2 linked regions of the Homo sapiens genome follow. The protein of the gene in region 2 interacts with the protein of the main gene of each other region in a biochemical or structural test. Each region holds a gene or a part of one and is shown on either strand. Other genes may lie near its edges.

Region 1 (3,660 bases), on a different chromosome or scaffold from region 2:
AATACATTTTAAAGTAAAAATCACATTTCCTAGTTGTCTGTGTCAGACAACTTTACTAGTATACTATAGTATTATTAACTACCTTAATTTTTGTTGACATTAAATTTTACTTGAAGATGATAAAAAAGTAGCAGCAATGACAGGGATAGCTAATACTAGAAATACAATAAAGCTCTGCGATAATGCACCTGAGACAAATGTAAATTTTGGTGAAATGTGACTGACGACTGCTTTCTGTCTTCTGGCCACTCTTATATTCTTAAACAGATACACTAAAATTATCTTGTGGAGGAAAGAAAAGGAACAAATGGCAACCCCATCTGGAAAACCAGGAAGTTAGGATGAGTACCTGAGTTTCCAGTATTTCCCTGCTCAATCTCCCTGGACTTGATGTTACAGGCACCACTAATCCCCAGATTTTTGGAATAGCTGCTGTTTTCCAGAAGTTCCAAGACCCAGAGTTGTCTCTATGAATTTTTAAGTGGGAAGAAACTACCACAGCCAGGCAGTGCCGTCCACACAGGGATATTCTAAGTGGCCCAGCAGGACTCAACTCTTACTGGCAACAGGCACTGATCTGCCATGGTCACTTCATCAAGTCCACAATAATGCAACTCTGAATTTTACACGATGGAATTTTTTGGACACTACCTATAATTTTATGGTATGGTTTTACTGTACCATTACTCCCAGTTCAAGACTGCACATCCACACTTATTATTGGGTATCTCCACATTTCTCTTGTTCTGGTCTTTGTCCAACACTCTATTCTCTTCTGAATGAAAGAAACTTTGGATTTAGTTTTCAAGATTTAGAAAACCCATTCTTTTTCAAAGATAGCATGACCATTATATAATACAACCGATACTTTGTAGAACACATCTATAAACTTGCACAGGAACAACAAAAGTATAATACTTATATAAGATCAGAAATGTCCATGTGTTCCTATGCTATATGGTATCATTTTTTTCAGTCACTTTTAAAATGAATTCACTGAACTGTATCATGATATCCCCATTATTAGGTTTTTAATCTAGCAGCCCAACTTACCCGGACAAGTGCATCATCTATGATATGGTCACGTCTAACTTTGAGTCTCAAATATGGATTCAACTGCTGTCCTTGAACTAAGCTGTAGAGAACAGTGATTCTTCGTTCACTGTACATGCGAATTCTATTGTCATAATATAATCCCAAATTCTTTGTGACAGCATTCAATATAAAGGGACATGTCATAAAAGAGAATTTGTTCTCTGTTTCTACTTTGAAAAAAGTATAATCTTTATCCATTTCTAGAACCTCATTCAGTGGTTCATTAATAAACTCTTCAAAAGGGATAAGTGGTTTTCGACAATCCAGGGTTTTAACACCAAGTTCAGTTTCCAGGGGGTCCACTCGAGGACCTTTCTTGTTTCTTCTTTCTTCTCCCAAAAGTTCCTGAAGTGTCAGCTCGCTGGACTCAGGGATGGGCTCTTCATCATCTTCTTCATTGTGATTTGTGTCCACTTCCCCTCCCACTACATTTGCATAGTAAACCATTTTCAAGCACTTCGAAGCAGCAACAATGGCATCATCATCATTCACTAGATTTCGACTGTTAAATTCATTGCTTATGACTTTATAAGTAATAAGTTGCTGAAATGTCTCCATCATTCTCCGAATCTGGTCTGCATTGTATTTAGACCACAGTCTGATCAGTTTTCCTTGGGCTGCAAGGGGTAGCTTGCTCATCGCTTTGCAAAATAATGGCAAAGCCATTTCCAGATATTCAGGACTGTGGAGATTTCTATTCTCCATTACGATAATGAACAAATTCAGATAATTAGGATCTCGAGAGTATACATTGTGATACGTCAAGTCACATTCCACGTTAGGTGACAAATATACAAGTGCATTGAGAAAGGCAGTTTCAATTTTTTCATTAGAGAGCAATCTGGTGTAGACCCTTCTAATGGCATCAATATCCACAGACACATCATCAGGGCCTAATTTTTGCAAATTGTTGTCTCCCTGTGAGCTATCACCTATCCTTGAGGAAGATGCTTCTGAGTCTTCTTCCATAGCAGCAGCAGAACATGCAGCTTTTTCCTTTTCATCTTCATCTTTGTCTTCATCTTTTGCTTGAAGAGATTTCAGTTCTTCCTTGGTGTGTTGTTTAACTTTCCGGAAGCTCTGTACCAATGCCTCAGCACTAGAAAAAACTCTTCCAATAACACGGATTAAAGGGGAATAATCCTCTCTTTCTCTACATAATTCAAGAATTTCATATACCTTCTCTTCTGTTAAGTAAGTCACATCTAGAAAATCAGAGGAAAAAAGAGAACATTTATTTTCATAATATGTATGTTTACTCTGTTGCAAAAAGTTCTAAAAGTAAAACAGCCAAACATTCTAGGCTCAATATCATTTATGATATACAACTCTTAAAGTATCTAATACTTAGATTCAGCAAACAAAATTTAATGCTTACCTATTTTTTTCAATGAACTACCTACCTATACCAATGACCTCACCCATGCTTTTACATTCTTTCAACAATGTATAACTCTTAATAAGATCATGAGTTTAAACTTTCTTTATAATCAAGATATCTATTAATGTATAGCTTTAATTATAAATATGAACCAATATGTCATGTACTGATTAATCATAATACAGCTCTTAAAACCTCACTGTAGAACACACAGAAATACTACTAATCTGTGAGTTTTCTTGTTTCAGTACTCTGTTCTCCAAAGACTAAGAAGGCAAGGTCTTAAAAAAAGGCTCCTTCAGCATCTATGTATGTATTAAAATCAAACTGGTTCATTTTGGGTCTTCCTAGTTTGTTCCAGGGTAGTCATTCTGTGAGTGATTGAGAAGAATATACCATTTCTCATCGGCTCTTAAGTAGAAACTGCTTTCCACAGCCAGGAATCAGGTTAGACTAAATCTCATAGAGTGACAGAAAATAGTTTTTGAGCAATGAAAACAAACAGTGCAAAGAAGTAAACTTATGAGCTGGCAAGCAGTGCAGAGACTATGTAGTCATCAAAATCTATTTCCTCTTTTCCTGGGCACAGAGTTGGACCACATTTCCCAACTTTTTGAGATAAGTGTTATTTTCAGGCCAAGGCTTTCTCCCTTCTGGCTAATAGGATGAAAGATATTTCATTTCACAGGTAAAAACAAATGATATATTTTGTGTACTGACCAACATAATACTGAGAATAGTCTTAATTCTCCCTTTTATCAATAAAGTGACATACTTGTCATCATCAGATTAACTACTTGAGAGGTTAATTTTAGAGGCACACAGACAATCCTACCTCCATTGCGCCAAATATACCCTTATACATGTAGTGTACAACATGTAGAATTTTTAATGACTCCCACCTCTGCTATAATATATGTTTCACAATGAAAGACAATATAAAATGTAAGTGATCATTGAATGGTCTCCAAAAATTGAAGCACAAAAATACCAAATTTTATCATACTAAGGATCTGATCTGTGGCCCAGCTACAAGAGTACCAACACTTACAGTTTCTTTTATGGGCCTTAACTCTTTAAGAACTAATTCTCAGGTTTGTTCTATTAAGAATATATAAGCATCTTTTGCTAAACATCAGTAACCTCTTCCCCAAAAGCATAAAACCACTGGAAACCTATTTCTC
Region 2 (2,339 bases):
TTTGGTGGCTGTGACAGTGCCCAGTTTCTCTGTGTGCTGAGCGTGACCACACTGCTCAGCGAAGCTCCCTCTGGCCTGTTTGTAGATCAGCACCTGCCACCAGCTCCTGCACCCCCAGGTCCTGCAGCTGCTTGTTAAGCTTTTTGAGACTGAGCACTCCCAGCTGGACGTGATGGAGCAGGTGAGCAGTGCCCGTGGGGCTTGCCAGAGGGCTGAGGAGGACCCTCTCTAACCAGCTCCCTGTCCCCCTTCTTCTGTAGCTTGAGTTGAAGAAGACACTGCTGGACAGGATGGTTCACCTGCTGAGTCGAGGTTATGTACTTCCTGTTGTCAGTTACATCCGAAAGTGTCTGGAGAAGCTGGACACTGACATTTCACTCATTCGCTATTTTGTCACTGAGGTCAGCAATGCACCGTTGGTTTCATGTTTCATACTGTTTACACTAGCACTGCCCTTTTTGGCTTAATTTAGTTCATTTTGTACCTAACTGAGAACTGTGCTTTCTGATGTAGTGATGACAATGACAGATACTCGTTTACCAAAAAGCACCTTCTGCCTGCAGCAGCTGTATGACACACTTTACCTCCATTACCACCCTGGGCATCTGAATGTTGGAGATGGGTGGTGTCACCGGCCGGTGGGGGTGGGGAGGGATTTTTTCCAAACTGATGGCCATTTCACCCGGATGTCGGTGGATGCCCCGCACTAGTGTGCGGAAGAAGTCACCCTGTGCTCCCCCACGCAGGTGCTGGACGTCATTGCTCCTCCTTATACCTCTGACTTCGTGCAACTTTTCCTCCCCATCCTGGAGAATGACAGCATCGCAGGTACCATCAAAACGGAAGGCGAGCATGACCCTGTGACGGAGTTTATAGGTGAGGCCGACTGCCTAGCCCTTTACTACAATAGAAAATGTCAGCTGGGCGCGGTGGCTCATGCCTGTAATCCCAGCACTTTGGGAGGCCAAGGTGGGTGGATCACCTGAGGTTGGGAGTTCAAGACCAGCCCGACCAACATGGAGAAACCCCATCTCTACTAAAAATACAGCATTAGCTGGGCATGGTGGCACGTGCCTGTAATCCTAGCTACTCGGGAGGCTGAGGCAGGAGAATCGCTTAACCTGGGAGGCAGAGGTTGCAGTGAGCCAAGATCGCGCCATTGCACTCTATCCTGGGCAACAAGAGCAAAACTGCATCTCAAAAAAAAAAAAAAAAAAGAAAGAAAATGTCATGTTCTACTTCCTGTTTCTAACACAGTCACTGTTTTCCTCGTTAAAGCTCACTGCAAATCTAACTTCATCATGGTGAACTAATTTAGAGCATCCTCCAGAGCTGAAGCAGAACATTCCAGAACCCGTTGTGGAAAAACCCTTTCAAGAAGCTGTTTTAAGAGGCTCGGGCAGCGTCTTGAAAATGGGCACCGCTGGGAGGAGGTGGATGACTTCTTTACAAAGGAAAATGGTAGCAGCTTCAGTGAGAAACTGCCCTTACAAACAGTCCCTTCTCTGCTGTCAATCCAATACTGCTCCCAAATCCTGTTTTCAGTGTTCATTTCCCTCAAGGCAGGCGCTGGGCTCCCACGACCCCTCAGGACAGATCTGGCCGTCAGCCGCGGGCCGCTGGGAACTCCACTCGGGGAACTCCTTTCCAAGCTGACCTCAGTTTTCTCACAAGAACCCAGTTAGCTGATGTTTTATTGTAATTGTCTTAATTTGCTAAGAACAAGTAATAAGTAAATTTTTAAAAAGCCTTTCTGCTGGGTTGGATTAAGTCCTGATGTGACATTGTTTTTGTGTGCGAATAAGGCACGGGCAGCCTCAGTCTCGTGCAGAGCCAGATACTTTATTCATCACTTGGGCGATTTGAAACTGCCAACTCCCTCCCTCCCTCCCCCACCCTTGATTCTAAAGTGACATAAGAATGGTGATAAGTCTGAACTCTTTCACCTCTTAAATGCCATATTATTGCCCACAGTTGCCAAATACAAAATATCAAGTCCTCTGCTGAAGAAGACTGAGGTCCCATCGTTTCCTGTGTCGCAGGTCACTTCTTCACCAGGTGGCTGACTGCATCATTGTGAGGCAGAGCCATGCTGTGCAAGTGTCATAAGTCATCCCACTTTCAACTCTCAGGAACACTCGCAGCCAGTGCCACGCTGTCCTCGCCATCCAATATTGATAGCCACCCCAGTTCCTGCCAGCCAGCCTGGCACACATAACCATAGGATCCCCTCTGGTCATGGGTCACCATGCCTTTTCTTAAACTGCGCTTCTAGTGACATGGCCTTAAACGATGGGGTCCCCAAATGTACAGTGCTCCTCGATGGCAAGGTTGTATCT

What was found. The genes of interacting proteins can lie anywhere in the genome.
Region 1: the proteins of NELFCD (region 2) and UBE3A form a complex in vitro, tested with the Homo sapiens proteins (one study listed by BioGRID).

Annotation. Positions count from the first base shown.
Region 1 is NC_000015.10:25,369,513-25,373,172, forward strand, and holds part of UBE3A (ubiquitin-protein ligase E3A), read right to left. Parts: intron 2,301-3,660; coding exon 1,054-2,300; intron 1-1,053. UniProt on the Homo sapiens protein: E3 ubiquitin-protein ligase which accepts ubiquitin from an E2 ubiquitin-conjugating enzyme in the form of a thioester and transfers it to its substrates.
Region 2 is NC_000020.11:58,993,364-58,995,702, forward strand, and holds the end of NELFCD (negative elongation factor C/D), read left to right. Parts: intron 1-85; coding exon 86-181; intron 182-260; coding exon 261-401; intron 402-746; coding exon 747-876; intron 877-1,278; coding exon 1,279-1,313; 3' UTR 1,314-1,750; downstream 1,751-2,339. Other genes in the region: CTSZ (cathepsin Z preproprotein), read right to left, coding at 2,286-2,339. UniProt on the Homo sapiens protein: Essential component of the NELF complex, a complex that negatively regulates the elongation of transcription by RNA polymerase II.